Homo sapiens: one gene and its partners. Changing the gene in region 1 together with any one later gene gives a genetic interaction. Each region holds a gene or a part of one and is shown on either strand. Other genes may lie near its edges.

Region 1 (2,797 bases):
AAGTGAATACCCTCTTCAGCCTTCCCATAAAAATATAGATGACACTGGCTGAGCACCCTCATACATAACTTTGGGTCTGGCACTGTTCCAAGCTCTTCTCATGTATGAATCTATATCATCCTTCATAACAAGCCTATAAGATGGGTGTTATTTACATCTTATATACAAGAACGCTGAGATACACAGAGGGTAAGGAACTTGAACAACGTCACCCAGACAAAAGCAGCAGAGGAGGGATTTGATCCTAGACAGCTGGACTCTAGAGTCATGCTCCATGGCCTCTACCTGAAAAGCCATGTTACAACAGGGAGCTCATGTCCTCCCAAGATAGCACTGTCCAACTCTCACATAATGTTACCAGAGCCAGTTCTAGAACACAGCCCAATTTTCAATCCTGTGCTTGCCATTGCATCTCATGCAACAGTGTTCTTAGTAAAAGCTGTTCCATGAAGCTGAAATCAAACAAGCTCAAAATAAAAGATAGAGACAGACAAGCATACTTGAAAGAGAACATGTTTATTTACATCACTATTTCCTTTTTACAATGCCTCCACCTTTTGAATAATAAAATTTTCCAGGAAATCAGGTCATTTTAAATTATTAAGGTATTTTAACAAATACAATTTTCACCCTATGATTTTTATTTACATGAGTTTTCAAGAGTTTTAAATAGTTCTTTTGAAACTGCACAATATAACCAGAAGGCCTGACTCAGACCCTGCATCTTTTCCAAAAACTTTCAGTCTAGGAAATTATGTTTATAATCAAATCCTTGCACTTTGGATCTTTTCCGATGAGGATTTTATTAACACCTCTAAAATATGAACCTGCTTCATAAATGATCCATATTTTGGCAGCAAGCTGAACCTATTTGACACTTCTTGATAGTAAGCAAAGATATTTTTGATACCTTAATTAAACTGCTTTGATTAAAACTTTCTGGAAGTTTTCCGTATCAGTCATACAACTCCCTATGTTGTTGTGTATGTGTTCTGAGTACACACTGAATTTATGAGAATGATTTATTTCCGGTCTGGCCAGCTCTGAAAGAGACACATGGGGGATTCGGAACTTTATGGCACAGGCACTGGTGCATCTGCTCTCTTTGTCCAGTCACACTTGGGATGCTTAATTTTCCTGATATTATACATGCAAATCACTTACTTTTCATAGAATTTACCATTCATCAAATGACTTTCAACAATAACAATGGTCTGACATTCTTTCATGTCGTACTGAGATTTCAGATATTTATTAGAGAAACTATAAGACAGATTTTCCTAATATTTTTGAAGTATGAGTTCCTCTGAATAGTTGGTATAACATCCATTAAAAAATAGAAAAGGTTAACTTTTTACCATGATCAAAGCTAGAGTTCACAATGAAACACCTGCATAGCTCTGCCCAACATCTCTGTAACAACAGCCAAGGGCCGGTCTTGAACATCATGCAGCAGCAATAGAGGTATCATCCATGAGTCGACCCTGTGGCTTTAAAGTGGGAAAAACAAAGTGGGTTTACAAAATTATAATATAATAACAAAAGCTCTATTAACTGGAAGGATTTTTAAATTCTTGAAACTGTTTTACAAAAACAGAATAAATGAGTGTAAGCATCAAAATAAAAATGGTGATATGGTGATTCTCCTCCTTTCACCCCACCTCTTTCTTTCTTCACTTGCACCTGGGGATGGCCACGGCACAGGCTGGGAGCTGCCCTCTCCTGTAGCCATCACCAGCTGACTCTGCACTTCCACCCGAAGAATCCTCTTCTGTCAGTACTTCTCTCTCAACCCTGCGTTCCAGCAGCTACTGCCAGGCCATCTCCCACATGTGGAATGGAACCTTGTTTATCATTCCTACTTAACTGATAGTTTTATTCTCTCTCTCTTGCTCAGGGCCCTCCTGTGTCTCAAGCTTTAAGCAGGTCCAGAGCCTGAGCTGACAGGTAAGTTCCTTTTGGGGACTCAAGGTTGCCCAATCTCCTGTTTGAGAAAAAGTGTCTGCAGTGAACTCCAATGCATGCTGCAAGGATAAAAGTGGCAGATAAAAACAAAAACTGCCCTATCTCTAAGATCACTGATTGAAAGAATTTAAAACATCACGTCAGAAAAGTCAAGACTAAGAATGAATAAAAGGTATCGTAACTGTTTTTAGTTGTAAAATTTCTGGCAGGTTAACAACATCCCAGAGGGATAGCTAGTAGCTAAAAGAATACAATTCTTACAAATAATTTTATTTTATTATACAGATATACAATAGCAGACCTTTGTGGGGAAAGCAGGAGAAAGATGATCAGGAAATGAAACAGAAGAGTGTTCACAATCAAAAGTGATTTGCTATGCTTTAAGCAGAAAGATTCTGAGGCATTCCCGAGGCAGTGAAGACAGCACTCCTGCTTTCAGTTTGCTGCTGCTGTGGTTGTTCAGATGTATATAGCAGTGTGTGTGTACATACATACAGAAACATAGCTAAGTATAGCTTCCAGACATTCACGGCAGGAATGGAGTGAGTGAAATAGGTTCCCGATCCTTGATTCTTGACTGTTTTTTTAGTACTGATGGGAGCTGCTCAATTTTAGAAACAAAATCATGGCTCAAGCTAGTGAAATCCCTGCCAAATGTAGCTTTTACAAGCAAGAGCAAAAAATGAGTGCATCATACAATTAGAAAACCAAAGCCTTTTATTCAAAGGAAGAAAAGTATGGATTCATCCTTGCCTAGGACGTCACTGTCTGGTATGGCAGTCGCTAGTCACATTTAGCGATTGAGCACTTGAAATGTGGCAGTGTAACTAAG
Region 2 (3,500 bases), on another chromosome or scaffold:
GCTACAGCTTCACCCCTAGTATGCTTGTCTAGGGGAGTGTAGGCCCCTTGTTGGGAATCTGTGTTTAGAATACTGCTGTAGCTACAGTTGTATGCTGGTAGTGTCCTTTTCACTGCCTAAACTGTGGTATTGGGCCAGTGAAGGTCTGAGTTTATTGATCCTTGCTTTGCATTCCTGGCTCAGGGTGGAGGAGAAAGTTATTTCCCAATCACTTAGTTTCTGTCCTTTACCCTCAGGTATGTCAAGAGCCCCACCTTCCTCGGGGGCACCTCCAGCCTCAACAGCACAGGCTCCTTGTGGCCAGGCTGCATATGGCCAGTTTGGCCAAGGAGATGTACAGAATGGGCCAAGCTCCACTGTTCAGATGCAAAGGTAGGTACTTGGTCAATCTAAAATTGGTCTGATGAGGCTGAGTGCAGTGGCTCATGCCTGTAATCCCAGCACTTTGGGAGGCTGAGGTGGGTGGATCACCTGAGGTCAGGAGTTTGAGACCAGCCTGGCCAACATGGCAAAACCCCATCTCTTTTCTCAAATAAAAAATTAGCCAGGTGTGGTGGTGTGCACTTGAAATCCCAGACTTGGGAGGCTGAGGCAGAAGAATCATGAGGCAGAGGTTGCCGTGAGCCGAGATCGTGCCATTGCACTCCAGCCTGGGCGATAGAGTGAGACTCCGTCTCATAAATAAATAAATAAATAAATAAATAAAATTGATCTGATGAAAGTAGAAAGGTTAGGAATGTATGGGGGTTTGTGTTTTGTTTTGTTTTTTTTCTCTCCTTTGCCTTTCTTGTAGATCACTTTTTCTCTTCCCTCTACCCTTTTGTACTTTGTCTTCTTTTTTCCAGGTTACAGGTACTGCTGACGTCCAGCCCTGTGGATTATTGACCCATCTTAGTACCTGGGTTCCTTTGCATATTCTTCATTTTCTGTGAACTTGAGTTTCTTGCTTTACTAGACATACATCTTCAATAATGGTTGCAGTCCTGTTGAGACTACCCTAAGGGAGAAATGGGAAGAGGAAACTTCAGGATTATTTGCATCTCTTTTGACTTGCCCCTTTCCTCTAGAACAGGCACTTAGTAGGACTGATTGGTTAAGTTTGGGCATGGCCAGTTATGAACTGAAAGATACTAAAAGGGAAACCACATAAATGGTGAAAACTTCAGTGGTACAGTGACCCAATAAACCCATCTTAGCATGAAAGTCCATTAAAGGAGGGCAGTCATCTCTATTAGAGTGCTTTTTAAAATTTTTTAATTTTTTTTTTTGAGACAGGGTCTCACTCCGTGGCCCAAGCTAGAGTGCAGTGGCAGGATCACAACTCCCTGGAGCCTGGATGTCTCAGGCTCAGGTGACCCTCCCACCTCAGTTTCCCAGGTAGCTGGGACTACAGGCATGCGCCACCACACCCAGCTAATTTTTTGTATTTTTAGTAGAGATGGGGTTTCGCTGTGTTGCCCAGGCTGATCTCAAAACTCCTGAGCTCAAGCAATCTGCCCACCTTGGCCTCCCAAAGTGCTAGGATTACAGGAGTGAGCCACTGCACCTGGTCAGGAGTGTTGTTTGTGTTTGGTAAATAAAGAGTAAAATATAACTGTGGGAAAGGGGTATGATAATAGAAAAGTCACTTTCTGACACTTTAACTGGGTGTCCAGAACACACATTTTAAGCATTGAATGTAAGCCTGGGTAAGTCAAACAAGTGGGGTACATAGAAGATAACAAGTACACAAATGTACATAAAGTTATAAAACAGGGTGAGGATATAGTGAGGGGGTAGGGAGCTGTTTTAAATACATTGGTCCGTGCTGGGTGCAGTGGCTGACTCCTTTAATACCAGCACTTGGGGAGGCTGAGGTGGGAGGATTGCTTGAGCTCACAAGTTGAAGGCTGCAGTGAGCCATGATTGTACTGCTGCACTCCAGTCTAGGTGACAAAGCAAGACCCTGTCACAAAAAAACAAAACAAAACAAAAAACCCATACGAAACAAGCATATGCCTTAGTAAATTATTATATAGCAAACTCCTTTGTAACTACAACTACGACCCAGATGAAGAAATAGAACTTTGCCACTCACCCCAAAAGCCTTTTCCATGTGCCCCAATTCAAACATTATTCTCTCCCTCCCCTCATAAATAACAACTATCCTGCATTATCCTGACTCTTACAGTAATTACTTTCTTTTTCTTTTTTTTTGAGACAGAGTCCTGCCCTGTTGCCCATGCTAGAATGCAGTGGTGTGATCTCGGTTCACTACACTCTCCAGCTCCTGGGTTCAGGCGATTCTCCAGCCTCAGCCTCCCGAGTAGCTGGGATTGCAGGCGCCTGCCATCAGGCATGGCTAATTTTTTTATATTTTTAGTAGAGACAGGGTTTCGCCATGTTGGACAGGCTGGTCTCGAACTCCTGACCTCAAGTGATCCACCCGCCTCAGCCTTCCAAAGTGCTGGGATTACAGGTGTGAGCCACCACGCCCAGCTGACTTTCTTGTGGTTTTTTAAAAATAGTTTACACTTGGCTGGGTGAGGTGGCTCATGCCTATAATCCCAGCACTTTGGGAGGCCAAGGTGAGAAGATTGCTTCAGCCCAGATTTTTGAGACCAGCCTGTGCAATATAGGGAGACCCCAATCTCTACAAAAAATAAAATGTTAGCTGGGCATGGTGGCAAGCTTGTTGTCCTAGCTACTTTGGGAGGCTGAAGTGGAGGTATCGTTTGGGCCCAAAAGGTCGAGGCTACACTGAGTGTGATCTCGCCACTGCACTCCAGAGCTTGAGAAACAGCGAGACTGTGTCTCACAAAGAAAAAGTTTACACTCAAATGTACAACCCCACGTACCACAATTTAGTTTTACCCACAGGAAAAACACTTGGTGTGTCTTAAGTCTATAAGCTCCACCTCTGTCTTCTTTTTCTTAGTATTTATCTGTTGAAGAAAACAGTTAACCCAAAGAATTTCCCACAGTTTGGACTCTTTACATAACATTTACATCACACTTGTCCAACTTGTGGCCCACAGTCTGCGTGCCCCAGGACGGCTTTGAATGTGGTCCAACACAAATTCATAAACTTCCTTAAAACATTATGAGGTTTTTTTTTTTAAGTTCATTACCTGTCATTAGTGTAGTGTTAGTGTATTTTATGTGTGGCCCAAGACACTTCTTCCAGTATAGCCCAGGGAAGCCAAAAGATTGGACACCCCTGATTTACATTGTATTAGGTATTATAAGTAATCTAGAGATGATTTAAAGTACATGGGAGGAGGCTGGGTGTGGTGGCTTATACCTGTAATTCCAGCACTTTGGGAGGCCAAGGTGGGTGGATCACCTGAGGTAAGGAGTTTGAGACCAGCCTGGCTAACATGGTGAAACCCCATCTCTACTAAAAATACAAAAATTAGCTGGGTGTGGTGGCGGGCACCTATAATCTCAGCTACTTGGGAGGCTGAGGCAGGAGAATCGCTTGAACCCAGGAGGCAGAGGTTGCAGTGAGCCAAGATTGT
Region 3 (3,500 bases), on another chromosome or scaffold:
AAACAACCCCTCCCCATCTCCAAAATACTAGACTTATAAACAGGTATTATTTTGCATTGTCTCTGAATGGAAATTAAATTAGGAACAATGAAAACTGGTTATTTTTCTCTCTGGTTTATGTTCTTTCTGTGTTCTCTTTCCCACATGCTGCCTTAACAGGCGATGGGTGCTACAACAGCTAATTCAGGAAACCTCCTTGCCTTCCTTTGTGACCAAAGGAAACTTGGGAACAATTCCCACAGAAAGGGCACAGCGACTCATACAAGAAGAGATGGAGGTCTGTGGTGAAGCAGCAGGGAGATACCCAAGCAACTATAATGCTTGGTCCCATCGCATCTGGGTTTTACAGCACTTGGCCAAGCTAGATGTCAAGGTAGGAATATTACTGTCTCCTGGGCAGACTGCCTGTCTGCCCTTAAAATCTTCTGGTAGTAGTTCATTCTCAGAAGAGCTTTGAAGGAGTAGAGAAACTGATGGTCTGGCAACTTGAGAGAATCGCAACAGCTGCTACCTCTGGAGGAACCCTGTAATTAAATAAAAAGCTTGCATTCCCCACTAGTGCTGTTTTTGGCAGTCTTAAGGCTAGTGCATTGGTAAAGCAAGGCAGGTTTAACCAACTGAGGAAGATTGAGCATAACTCACTTTATCCTGAAACAGGAAGGGATTATTAAGCCTTATAGAACTGGAATTGCTATTTCTTGGTAGTGTTTGGTTATGTGACAATATACTAAGTCAGCTGGCTGTCTTTTCACACTCTCGTCCTCTGAAAAGGGGGAGAGGAGGGCAGGGATAGACAATCTCACCCAGGTGTTTTTAAAATTGGCTGAGCCTATAAATTACCTGGGGATTCCTAAGTTCCACTCCAAGCCTACTAAAGCAGAATGAGGGTGGATCTAGAGATCAGTATTTTCCACTGACTCAGGGTTATTTGAATGCAGAGCCAGTTTGGAAACTCTCACAGCCTAATCCTTTCAGTTTAGAAATGAGGAGATGGAGATTTCCAGAGAATTTTAATGGCTTAGACTTAGCTACAGTTGTACCACTTATTATTCATCAGAATGAGAGCCACATGTCCCTTTTGCTCCTTATATACTACGGTGTCTCAGTTTTTTCTTTTCTGATGGCGTCACAGTGCCATAAGAATCTAGGGTGCTCATCTAAAAAGCTTCTCAGGCTTGAGACAGTTAAAAGAGGTCAAGTTGAAGATTGAAGTGCCCCAGGTGATGCTTTCAGATAAGTGGGGAAGTGTTATGTAATTTTAACTTACCACCCTCTTCTTCCTACATCCCTCTTCCCATGCTCCCATTTCTCTCTTTGTTTCCTGGCCAGGGCAAATGGGAGACTTTTTACTTCCAGAGGATTTTAAGCCAATAATTCTGGAAGAGAAGCCTTCCCCATTCAGTTTACATGGCTTTGAGTTTCAGGAGGGGTGGCCGCCTAATGGAATAGAAAGAACCAAGGCTCAGAATCACATCAACCTAGGTTCAGATTTTGGCCCCACTACCTATATGTGGAAAGCAAGGTTTTATTGTTTTCATTTATAAAATAGGGACTCTACTGTCTGCCTCAGTGGATTATTGTGAGAGTTAATTGAGTTAATGGATGTAAATTACTGGGCATCTAATAGAGAGAGATTCACTCGATTTTAGTTCCTTTCTCTGTTCTCCAGAGATAGAAAATTGGCTACCAGTTTGCTTGATCAACTCCGTGCAATTTATTGATGAAAAAGTATAAAACCCTATCATACCCACCGACTGTCCTGTATACGCAGTAAAACAAAGTGTTTGCTCTCAACAAATTGAAAATCTAGTTGAGAAAGTAGACCAACAATTACAAAGCATCAGAATACAATGGGAGCACAGAAAAATCGTTCTTCATCTAGGATGCGCTCGTTGGAAATAGCTGCCGGGGGAAGGAAGATACATTGAGTTGGGAGGCATGATTACAAGTTGTTTGGTGGGTTGTCAGGGATATGGAGTGCTTGGTGGTCATCTCAGATCCATGACTTGATAGTGTGTGGGAAGAGGAAAGAGATATGGGGAGGATTGGGGATAAAAAGGAAGGCGGAGTCCAGGTTGACTGAGAGATCTTTGGAAATTTTTCTGCCATGATGTGGACCTTTACAAGTGGCATTTCCATAAAATCAGGAACAAGGGGCCAAAGTGAAATTTTTGGTTACTTGAGACCATCTGGTGGTAAAGATAACTCATTAATGGTGAGTTATAACTCATTAATGGTGAGCTCAGCTGCCAGGGTCCACTCCTGGGTTCAGATGTCATCATCCTTCCTTGACCCGCCCTTGGAGGAAGACTTACCATTCTTCCATTCACCACTTGCCACTGCAACATCTCTTGCTCTTGTTGTCAGTGAGGAGTCCTAAATTTGCAAAATCCCCTTTCTGTTGTTATAAGCCATTGGGCCCACCTAGAACATTTACTACTATGCTTTGTCTGTTACAGGAGGTAATCACAAAAATACCAGTAGTCTAAATCAGCTTAAAAATATATATGAAATGAGCCAGCATTTTTTAACTTAGGAAATTGAAAATGACTTTTTAAAGTGCTGGCATCGAGTATTAGTAAGAGTATGAAAATGAGCATTATTCAAATTGTTATAAGCTTACTGAAGGGCAACATGGCAGCACTTATCACACTTTTAAAAATAGGGTGTTATTTTTAAGAGTTCTGCTTCCAGGAATTCATCATAAAGAAATAATGGAAGATGAAGTATGGTAGAATGATTAGAAGCTTCACTCAGTGGTCATGCAGACCTGCTTTGCATTCTGGCTTTACCACCAATTTGCTGTGTAGCCTTGAGGAAGTTGCTTAGCCTCTTCAACCTTCAGTTTTCTCATCCGGAAAAGGAGGGTGACAATAATTCCCATCTCACTGAGTGATGCAAATTGAAAGGGAGGATTCATATAAAGTGGCTATCAAAGTGCCTTAATTAAGTGCTCAATAAACACTGGCTATTAAATATAGAAGTTTGATATATAAAAGTAGCATTTATAGTAGTGAAAAACTAGAAAAGCTGTAGCCCTTCAATAATGAGGGAATTGTTAGATTACAATCCATCACATTGGAATATTTTGTTATGACTAAAATGTATATTTTGGAAGATGATTTAAAGGAAAATATTCACAATAGGTTATATTAGGGTAGGCCTAATATTATTATTTATTTATTTATTTTTGAGACAGGGTTTTGCTCTGTCGCCCAGGCTGGAGTGCAGTGGCACAATCTCAGCTCACTGCAACCTCCGCTTCCCAGGTTCAAGCGATTCTCCTGCCTCAGCCTCCCAAGTAGCTGGGATTACAGGCACCCACTACCACGCCCAGCTAATTTTTATATTTTTAGTAGAGACGGGGTTTCGCCATGTTGGTCAGGCTGGTCTTGAACTCCTGACCTCAAGCAATCCACCTGCCTCTGCCTCCCAAAGTGCTGGGATTACAGGCATGAGCCACCACACCCAGCAGCCTAATATAATTTTTAATGTATTTA
Region 4 (3,500 bases), about 100 Mb from region 1:
ATCTGCCCACCTCGGCCTCCCAAAGTGCTGGGATTACAGGCATGAGCCACTGCGCCTGGCTAATAGATGTTTTTTTTGTTGTTGTTTGTTTGTTTGTTTGTTTGTTTTGAGACAGAGTCTTGCTCTGTCACCCAGGCTGGAGTGCAGTCGCATGATCTCAGCTTACTGCAAGCTCTGCCTCCCGGGTTCACGCCATTCTCCTGCCTCAGCCTCCCGAGTAGCTGGGACTACAGGCGCCCGCCACTGCGCCCGGCTAATTTTTTGTATTTTTAGTAGAGACGGGGTTTCACCGTGGTCTCGATCTCCTGACCTCGTGATCCGCCCGCCTCGACCTCCCAAAGTGCTGGGATTACAGGCGTGAGCCACCGCGCCCGGCCTAATAGATGTATTTTTGAAGTTTCGTGGTGGTAGACGTTTTAAGTAGTGATGTTTGTAATAACTGTCATTTATGAGCATTTGTTTATATATGCCAGGCACTGTTCTAACCACTCTGAGTAATACCACTTATTTCTCACAACAACCCTGTAGTATAGATACTGTTCTCCTTATTTTAATGAGAGAGGAGCCAGGACATACATGGATAAAGCGACATGATTAAAGTCAGAGGTGGACATAGTGAAGCTGGAATTTAAACTGAGGGTGTCTGCCCTAGACCCCATGCTCTTAATTGCCGTGCTATAGATACTGTCTTGGAGATGGCATGTATGAACAAGCCCACACAATTTTCTTTTCCTTTCTTTTTTCTTTTCTTTTCTTTTCTTTTCTCAATGTTTTCTTAGAACATTGAGTACTAAGGCTAAGAAATAAACTTTAGTAAATGCTTTGAATTCACATTTAACTATTTTATGTTCTTATAAATGTGTCTCTTTCTTTTTCAGTCAATGTTACACATTAACCAAGCATTAATGAATTAGGTAGTCCTTGTACTTAGGTCTTAGAAATACTATAATTGTATTCCATTTTTTTAATAATACAGCTATTTTGATTTCACTTTTAGAAATTATTCTGAAGGCATCTTATAACCTTTTCCCCCTTAACCATACTTTCTCCTTTTTTAAAAAGTAAATGATCCTTTAAAGAGTTAAGAATTTAAAAGTAAATGTTTTATCTGAAACTGGTCACTCTAGCTCATTAGTCTACTTGTTTTCCCCTAAATATAAACATTTAAAATAAATCAAAACTTTCTGTATATCTCCTTCTGTGCTAAGCAATTTTGAGTCTAAAAAGGGGTAAAAGTTTTGAAAAAAGACGTTATTTGTCTAGTTGGTGAGATAAGATAGCACATAAGGCAACTGGTTAAAAAAAGGTAATTGGAAAATATGTAAACAATATGTGCTAGTAGAATGTTACAAAATGTTTATTAAAATATAATGACGTTATTATAAAATGCTTAAATCATAGTATTGACAAGTACAAACTTGTCGGGGAGTATTTAGATCAATGTGGATTGAATCATCAGGGCAGTTTTCATGGAGGAGCTGGAACTTGAATTTATTATTAAAGATCAGGTGAGACAGTTGGCAAAGAGGAAGAAGAGGAGATTCATGTAAGAAAATAAATGCCTTTTTTATATCTTAGAAAGTTGGAATTTTTCCCCCCAAATAACCCTGAAGTTTTCTTGTTTAATCTCATGATAGTGGTAATCTTTAAAAATAGCAAACCTATCAAAAGCACTAACCCATGTGCTGAGCACTTTTTTTGGCTCCCTATTATAAAACGTATGATCTCATTGGAACCTCACAGCATCCCATGAGGTTGTCACTCTTTTCCCTATTTTACGAATGTAGAAACTGGGGCTCAGGGAGGTTAAATAATGTGTCCAAAGTATCATAGCTAATAAGTAACAGAGCCAGTAGTTAAATTGAGGATTAACTCCAGAGACCATGCTTTTAACCATGTGATACATCCTGCCTCCTAATCTCACTTTGCTCTAACCTAACACAATTTCTAAAATGCATTTCTTCAGTTTCATCATGCATGCTGGTTGCTTTGTTATTGTTTCTTCTAAATGTTAATATTTCCTCTATGATATAAAAATTGAATACCTGAACTTGTTGGAAGTAGAAAGAACTCTGGAGCTAAACTTGCAAGTTCCAATCTTGGCTCTGCCCCTTGCCCCCTTGCTAGCATGTACAGATTGTCTAACTTTCTGTGTCTTAATTTTTTCCTCTATAAAATCTCCTTCAAATATAAACAATTTGCAGGTACAAGACTCGGAGCATATGTTTAAGGCAATCTTAAGGAAAATGTTAGAGGATAAACTCTGGAGCTGAGTAAGGAAACTGGCAAAAATACTCTTGGAGAGCATTGAGTATGCATTTTAACTGCAGGACTGAGACTGGAACAAAAGTGAGAATGAGGAAGAAAGAATAAAATGTAAATGTTAAATGTCCAATAATGTAAGGGATTGATTATACAACTAATAAAAAGAGAAGAGGAAAGAAATTGGAGGTAGAATAAGTTTGTGAATTGCCACATCTGTAATGGCTATGAGTCAAAGGACATCATTTAAAGCTGACAGATCAGTTAGTAGAAGTATAAGGAGTTCAAAGGTAAACACTGAGAAAGATAATACTATTGACTATAACCATGTTGTGTGGATGGGCAGTAAGATTATACAAGCTAATTTCATAAGTGCTCATAGTAGGGAGTTAATAGTTTCTGTGTAAAGAAATAGAGGATTAATGGTATTAAGTAAAATATTTAAAATTACAGTTAAAAAGATAGAATCAGAAACACATATTATAATGAAAATATACATCATCCTAATTATCAGAAAAATGGTAATTGCACAAAAAAGAAAACAGACAATGAAAGACTTTTTAAAAATTATTACCCAAAGATATTAAACCAAAGTAAAATATGGTAAAACTAAGACCAACCATGTCTGTCATGTCAATACATTTTAAATGTCCTTAGCTAACCTACTGTGAAAAGATTTTCAAATTGGATCACCAGTAAAATCTGTTGGTTTTTTGTTTGTTATTTTGTTTGTAATGATGACAAAGTAGTTCTGAAGGGCAAAAGTATACATGTAAAGGCAAACAAGAGGTGGAATTCAGACCAAAAGTCATTATTTGAGACAAAGAAGGATATTCATAAAGCTAAAGTGTATATTTGACAGTGAATTTGAACATTATGGATATGCACCAAATAACTATTAAATAACAAAGTAATTTTCATAAAGCAAAAGTTTCAGGAGATACCATGAGAAATTGACATAAATATATTAGCAGTAAGAGACTTAATTCACTGTTTCGGTCCAAGGCAGATCAAGTGGACAAAAAAGTAAGGATATAGGAGATCTAAACAAATCAATAAAGAGGACTTAGTTAATATATATTGAGCTCTAGGCCCTGAAAACAGAGAGCACCCCTTCTTTCTAGGTCCCAAGAACAATTCACAAAAATTCACTATATAGGCTCTATTGAAAGGAAAGGAGGAATTATAGGCATAGGGGATTTTAGGACAAGGGAACTACTCTGTGTGATACTATAATG
Region 5 (3,500 bases), on another chromosome or scaffold:
TTTTACAGTGTCACATTAGGCCAAGAAGCAGCTAATGTCTACCACAGGGTTTCATAAATATGTATATAATTTCCTGCTTAGAAGTACGTTTCAAATGCTAAACACTAGATTTAGTTAGGATCTATACTCAGATCCCAGCACTTTGGGAGGCCAAGGCTTTGAGACCAGCATGGGTAAGCCAGTCGGGGCAGGATGACAAAACCCCATCTCTGCAAAATAAAAAAATGAAGTAAATTAGCTGGGTGTAGTCGTGCGCCACGGCCTCTAGTCCTAGCTACAGGCTGGAGCCCCAGCTGAGGCTCCTGCCTCAGCCTCCTGAGCCCAGGAGTTTGAGGCCTCAGGGAGCTGTGATTGCGCCACTGTTCTCCAGCGTGGGTGACAGAACAAAACTCCATCTCTTAAAAAAAAAAAAAGTTTTCCTTTGAAAGGGTTGATTAAACTTGTCCGTCTGGCATGGCATTTGAGAAATTCAAAGCTATTGTCCTTTCTGATAAGTTCTAAAATTGGAAGGAGTTGCTATAAACAAATGATTGAAGAACATGTGGCAGCTGAACAAGAGTGAGTGAATGTCTCCTTTGTTCGGGCTAGCAACGATTTATTTATTTGCCTGTTTCTTCTACGTGGAAAAAAATCACAAAGGGCATTTTTCTGTTATTCCCCCATTCCCCCTATTTTTCTGCATTTGTGCCTCTTGTGTGGCCACCAGCAAAGGCTGTCAGATGTGGGACACAGCAGTCAGTCTCTCCAGTGATTCTTCCATTGGAACATTGTGTAGAGAAGCTGAACTCGATTCCCGCAGGGGAGCCGAAGCACCAGCCAGCAGGCCCTGCCCTCCCCATGGCCCAGCGGCTGCAGTGCCAGGCTCATGGCCTGGCTCCTGCTTCCTGCCTAGTGTCCCCTGTCTCTGTCCACTCTCCCCCCGGTCCTGGTATCTTGCCTGCCTTCTGTCTTCCCTGCAGCAGGATTCTCAGAGGCCTCAGCTCACTCCTGCCTCTCATTGCTGTCTTGGAGTGAGGGGGAGCCACCTGACTGCTGACTGTTCTTAACCCAAAAGCCCGTGGCCTGAAGCTGAAAAATCCAGAGAAGGTTTTGAATATTTGAGCAGCACCAGCACAGTCAAGTTTTCTTTACAGTCTCTTCTTAAGCCTCATTATGTGATTCTCTTCTACTACTAATGGGCAGGCAAATTTTGTGACCCTCAGAGACGTAGTCATGATCATAATCCCTGACTTGCTGAACCAAGATGGGTATAAGACTCCTTGACTCACAGGATTCTTTTTTCCCCAGCAAGGTTCTCCTTCAACCCTGTAGTCCACATCATTGAGATGAAAAGTTAGGGCAGAAGGGAATGGAAGTAGAAGGAATTCATGGAGATCCCAAAGGAGCAAATCTTTCATAGTAAAAGAAATAGAGCCCCTTTCACCCCATTGCGGGCCCTGAGATGCTGTCTTCCGGTTGGCAGCGGTGCTGAGCCACGATCTCTTTTCCTTTAGATAGCCTTCTGGCAGGCATTCCTCAGAGAGTCAAGTTCACTGTCACTACCGGCCATTATACGATAAAGAATGGAGACAGCCTGCAGCTTAGCAATGCCGAAGCCATGCTCATCCTGTGCCAGGCGGAGAGCAGGGCTGTGGTCTACTCCAACACGAGAGGTGAGGTGCCGCCCACCCAGGCCCAAGGAGGATGCCCACCTTGCCCTGCACTGTGTGGGTGTGAGGGTGAGCCTGGCCTTGCTGCCATCCTGCTGAGCGCCCCTCAACAGTGTCTGGAGTCCGTGTTCCATAGGAGCCCTGCGGCCTGATGCCTGTGCTGGGGTCCCATCTGAGGTGATAAACTGAGAGTGGTTCACACGCTGAGTGGCCGAGCAGTGCTTGTCTGGCTGAGGATTAGGAGATGGGGGTCACGGCTGGGGTCACGTTCCATGGTGATGCCTGCCAGACCCTGTCCCCCTTGGGCTGGCCCTGCTCCCGAGAAGCAAAAGCAGAGCAGCCCTTGCAGGTGCTGTTGAGAGCCCTGAGCACTCCCATCCTCCCAGCCACGAGGAAGGGGAAGGGGAGGACCCTGCTCCCCTGGGGTGGGGGTGGATCTGCGGATGAGCTGGAACGGGAGAAAGTCATGCAGGGACCTACACAGGACTTGGGTGGGCCCCGTGGGAAATGCCCTTTTCCTCTCTTCAGATTGAGATCAATGATGGGTCTGGGCGCCTGCCTGCCGGCTTTCACACAGGGCTGCTCTGTCCTAGGGGCCTTGTTCTTGGGTTTGCCTGCCAGGTGCGCAGGAGCGGGAGAGGTTGAGCAGTGGCCTCACTGCTGGGCCATCACCTGCTGTAAGGAAAAGGACAAGTGAAACCGAGGGAACAGCTTTGAAGTGACTTTTTCTGTCCTTCGTAGAACAGTCTTCTGAGGCCGCGCTCCGGATTCAGTCCTCCGACAAGGTCACGAGCATCAGTCTGCCTGTTGCGCCTGCGTACCACGTGATCGAATTTGAACTGGAAGTTCTCTCTTTACCTTCAGCCCCAGCACTCGGAGGGGAGAGTGACATGCTGGGGATGGCAGAGCCCCACAGGAAGCATAAGGACAAACAGAGAACTGGCCGCTGCATGGTTACCACAGACCACAAAGTGAGTAGGGACAGTGGAGGAGCTTAGCTTGTGGGGCGTCCGCCGCCCGCCTGCCTGCTGGGAAAGGCGATGTAGCGATGCCTGCTGTTAGCCTGGCTCCTTCTGATTCCCGATGCCCTGGGCATGTGTTTAGCAGTTCTGTCTGTCTGTGAATCACCCTTTCTTAGATAAGGGGTGCATTTTTTGCAAGGGCAGAGACAAGCCAGCTCTACCTTTCCCTCTCAGTTCCAGGGGCCAGGGAGTTTGCTGTAAGAGGTTAGGGCCGGCTTAGGCATGAGGGGCGTAAAACTTGGGTCATGTCCATTAGACCGGTGACGAGGCCAGAGGAGGTCTGTGTCGTGTGTGCCTCGGTGTCTGTCCACTGAAACTCATAAGCTCAGCCACGGAGGAGCTGTCTCATTTTAGGCTTTGGTGCTGGTACTTACTGACAGTTACTTGAGAAAGATGTGATTTCGGTCCCAGAGCCACAGGATATCAGCTCATGGAATGTGTCGCTGCATCATGTTACTCAGGGTGTGCCCAAGTCTCGTAGCCCAGAAATCAATCCTGAGGGCCCTGAAACAGCCCAGGGGCCGCAGTATACGCCCAAGAGCAGCGGGGGCAAAGGGCAAGGCATGCCGTCTTTCCAAAGCACGGAGTCACCAGACAAGTCCACGCCTGAAGACGAATGTTGTAATGTTCAGCTTTTGAAGAACCTGAGGAAGTGTCTTTCCCTTAACTCACACAGACGTTCACCATTCACGAAGGTGGCGCTTAGCTCAGCAGGAGCGCGCAGCACTGGTGGCACCTGTGCTATGTGCCGTGTTATCCCGCTCTTCCCTGGCGCTGGTGGCACCTGTGCTGTGTGCCGTGTTATCCCACTCTTCCCTGGCGCTGGCGG
Region 6 (3,500 bases), on another chromosome or scaffold:
GCTTCAGCCTCCCGAGTAGCTGGGTTTACAGGTGTACTACATGGTGAGTTCTTGCAAGATCTGATGGTTTTTAAGGGGCCCTTCCCCTCTTCATTTAGCACTTCTCCTTCCCGCGGCCTTGTGAAGAAGGTGCCTTGCTTCCCCTTTGCTTTCCGCCACGATTGTAAGTTTCCTGAGGCCTCCCCAGCCATGCTGAACTGTGAGTCAACTAAACCTCTTTAATTGACCTTTATAAATTACCCCGGCTTCAGGGCCTTTTGTGGTTACATATGAATTTTAGGATCGTTCTATTAAGGTTTATTTGGCTTACAGTTCTGCAGGCTGTCCAAGAAGCACGAATCTGAGGATCTCAGGAAGCTTCCAATCATTGCAGAAGGGGAAGAGGAGTCAGTATTTCACAAGACGAGAGAGGGGAGGGGTGCCATGCTCTTTTAAACAACCAGTTCTCTTGTTAAATTATAGAGGGAGAACTCACTCATCAGCAAGGGGATAGCACCAATATGTGCATGACGGATCCACCCTCATGACCCAAACACCTCCCACCAGGCCCCGCCTCCAACACTGGGATCAAGTTTCAACACTAGATGTGGAGGGGACAAATATCCAAACCATAGCAAATGCCACTGGAATTATGATAGGGGTTGCATTAAATCTGTAGATCACTTTGGGTACTACGGATATTTTAACAATATTAATTCTTCCAATTCATGAACACAGAATACCTTACTTATATTTTCTCCAATTTTTTAAATCAATGTTTTATAGTTTTCAGCATATAGATCTTTTACCTCCTTGGTTAAATTTATGCCCAAGTATTTTATTTTATTTTATTTTCTGATGCTATTATTATTTTTTTAAAAATTATACTTTAAGTTCTAGGGTACATGTGCGCAACGTGTAGGTTTGTTACATATGTATACATGTGCCATGTTGGTGTGCTGCACCCATTAACTCCTCATTTACATTAGGTATATCTCCTAATGCTTTCCCTCCCCCTCTGATGCTATTATGAATGAAATTGTTTTCATAGTTTCTTTTTCAAATAGTTCATTGTTAGTGTATAAAAATGCAACTGATATTTGTATGCTGATTTTGTATCCTGCAACTTAACTGCATTTGTTTATTAGTTCTAATTTTTTTGTGTGTGGAATCCTTAGGTATTTCTATGCATAAGATCATCTCACCTGAAAACAGAGACAACTTTACTTCTTCCTTTCCAATGTGAATGCCTTCTATCTTTTTTGTCTGCCTGACTGTTCTGGCTAGGGCCCCCTATATTTTATTTAATGTAGAGTAAAGTGACAGAAAAAGCCACAGTTAATCATACCTCTATAAAGAATCTGATACATGGCATTCTTACAGAACTGATAAAAATGAGTGGGATAATCTACATTGAGCCATGGCTGACAATAGCAGTTTTGACAATACATCACATTTATATTTTCATCTTTGACCCAATAGTCTACCTTCCTAAACATACCAATTCTAACAGTCCAAAGAATTTTGAGATGTTTTCAAATTTTGGCTGCACAGTAAAGTGCTGCATTACCCAACAATCTTTGAAGTTCTTAAAACTTGTTTCTATAGACAGTTTTTTTTTACGTGAAAGCTGATAATCATCTAATTCCAGTGATTTTAGAGCTATAATTACAGAAGAGTAAGAGGTTCCTTTTTACATTAATTAGTATTTAATAATGCTTATTAAAGCATCAGAGCACTTAGTTAACATGATATACTGAGTTCTGAAAACAATGTATTATAATTATAAGGTCCACAGAAGAACGAAACCATAGGCTGTAGTAACATGTATACAAACGTCTTTCTTGAAGTACGAAGAAAAGTTGTTTTGGTCTACAATAAAGAAAGAGGGGGGTCAGGCGCGGTGGCTCATGCCTGTAATCCCAGCACTTTGGGCGGCCAAGGCAGGTGGATCACCTAAGGTCAGTTGTTCAAGACCAGCCTGGCCAACATGGTGAAACCCCGTCTCTGCTAAAATACAAAAATTAGCTATGCCTAGTGGCAGGTGCCTGTAATCCCAACTACTAGGGAGGCTGAGGCAGGAGAATCACTTCAACCCAGGAGGCGGTGGTTGCAGTGAGCCGAGATGGTGTCACTGCACTCCAGCCTGGGTGACAAGAGCAAAACTCTGTCTCAAAAAAAAAAAAAAGGGTAAGGGAAGAGGGTAAGAAAAGAGAGAGTAAAGCAGCAAAAACAAAATTACAATGATATGTCTAAACTCATCAGTATGAAGAAAGATGTAAAAAATCTGGAGACAGCTTAGCTGAAAGGTAATATCATGGTTAAGTTACTTCACAGATTTTTTTGAGTTACTCTTCCCAGCACTTTGGGAGGTTGAGGCAGGTGGATCACGAGGTCAGGAGTTCAAGACCAGCCTGGCCAAGATGGTGAAACCCATCTCTATTAAAAATACAAAAATTAGCTGGGCATGATGGCAGGCACCTATAATCCCAGTTACTTGGGAGGCTGAGGCAGAGAACTGCTTGAACCCGGGAGGTGGAGGGTGCAATGAGCTGAGATGGTGCCACTGCACTCCAGCCTGGGCGACAGAGTGAGACTCCGTCTCAAAAAAAAAAAAACAAACAAAAAAACTTCTTTAACAGAGGTATTAACATTTTACATTTTAAAAGGAATGTTGGAGACATCTGATGCTGGCCATGTTACAGTAAGAGCATTTTGACGTCAATCACCCACTGATTACAACAAAAACTGGACAAAACACACCAAAAAACAACTACTTCAGGACTACAAAAAGTAAACAACAGCAAGTGAAGGCAAGGCAGCAAAAACTTCTAGAAAAACCCTGTCTTTCCGGCCAAAGGACCAGGAAAAGAGGTTGCTAAGAGGTAGTGAAGTACAGGAAAGTCTCCCCTTTTTTTCTCTACCTCCTCTTTTTTCTTTCCTGGTCCTGCCTTTAAGGCAGCCCCAGTTGCAGAACTGCATGGTGGCAACAAAGGCAGTTAAAACCCCATCTTTCTGGCCAGAGCAAATAGAAAAAGGGATCCCAGGCCGGGCGCGGTGGCTCACGCTTGTAATCCCAGCACTTTGGGAGGCCGAGGCAGGTGGATCATGAGGTCAGAAGATCAAGACCATCCTGGCTAACATGGTGAAACCCCGTCTCTACTAAAAATACAAAAAATTAGCCGGGTGTGGTGGCAGGCACCTGTAGTCCCAGCTACTCGGGAGGCTGAGGCAGGAGAATGGCATGAACCCGGGAGGCGGAGCTAGCAAGGGATCCCAGTGGTCTGAAGTGTATGGGGGAAACCTGGTTATGCTGTTCTGCCTTTTCTGCTGTTACTTTCTTTTGATAGAAGCCCAAGTCACATGGAACTATGTGGTGGCAACACATGTAGTGTTGCATGCAGCCACAGCTCTATAGAGAAACCTTGTCTTTCTTGACAGAGGACCAGGAAAATGGGGTCTGTTTGCAAAACAATGTGGAAGGAACACTGGAGAGGAAAGAGCTGAGAGAGGGGTTCTTT

The links.
Region 2: changes in TRAPPC11 (region 1) and SEC24C together harm fitness less than expected from each alone (positive genetic interaction), as found in Homo sapiens cells (one large-scale study listed by BioGRID).
Region 3: changes in TRAPPC11 (region 1) and PTAR1 are lethal when combined (synthetic lethality), as found in Homo sapiens cells (one study listed by BioGRID).
Region 4: changes in TRAPPC11 (region 1) and SEC31A together harm fitness less than expected from each alone (positive genetic interaction), as found in Homo sapiens cells (one large-scale study listed by BioGRID).
Region 5: changes in TRAPPC11 (region 1) and TRAPPC10 together harm fitness more than expected from each alone (negative genetic interaction), as found in Homo sapiens cells (one large-scale study listed by BioGRID).
Region 6: changes in TRAPPC11 (region 1) and SLC39A9 together harm fitness more than expected from each alone (negative genetic interaction), as found in Homo sapiens cells (one large-scale study listed by BioGRID).

What each region holds. Positions count from the first base shown.
Region 1 is NC_000004.12:183,711,293-183,714,089, reverse strand, and holds the end of TRAPPC11 (trafficking protein particle complex subunit 11), read right to left. Parts: intron 1,491-2,797; coding exon 1,446-1,490; 3' UTR 501-1,445; downstream 1-500. UniProt on the Homo sapiens protein: Involved in endoplasmic reticulum to Golgi apparatus trafficking at a very early stage.
Region 2 is NC_000010.11:73,750,872-73,754,371, forward strand, and holds part of SEC24C (protein transport protein Sec24C), read left to right. Parts: intron 1-236; coding exon 237-372; intron 373-845; coding exon of another isoform or gene 846-852; intron 853-3,500. UniProt on the Homo sapiens protein: Component of the coat protein complex II (COPII) which promotes the formation of transport vesicles from the endoplasmic reticulum (ER).
Region 3 is NC_000009.12:69,729,012-69,732,511, reverse strand, and holds part of PTAR1 (protein prenyltransferase alpha subunit repeat-containing protein 1), read left to right. Parts: intron 1-159; coding exon 160-373; intron 374-3,500.
Region 4 is NC_000004.12:82,884,654-82,888,153, reverse strand, and holds part of SEC31A (protein transport protein Sec31A), read left to right. Parts: intron 1-3,500. UniProt on the Homo sapiens protein: Component of the coat protein complex II (COPII) which promotes the formation of transport vesicles from the endoplasmic reticulum (ER).
Region 5 is NC_000021.9:44,085,309-44,088,808, forward strand, and holds part of TRAPPC10 (trafficking protein particle complex subunit 10), read left to right. Parts: intron 1-1,493; coding exon 1,494-1,652; intron 1,653-2,390; coding exon 2,391-2,620; intron 2,621-3,500. UniProt on the Homo sapiens protein: Specific subunit of the TRAPP (transport protein particle) II complex, a highly conserved vesicle tethering complex that functions in late Golgi trafficking as a membrane tether.
Region 6 is NC_000014.9:69,436,692-69,440,191, reverse strand, and holds part of SLC39A9 (zinc transporter ZIP9), read right to left. Parts: intron 1-3,500. UniProt on the Homo sapiens protein: Transports zinc ions across cell and organelle membranes into the cytoplasm and regulates intracellular zinc homeostasis. Participates in the zinc ions efflux out of the secretory compartments.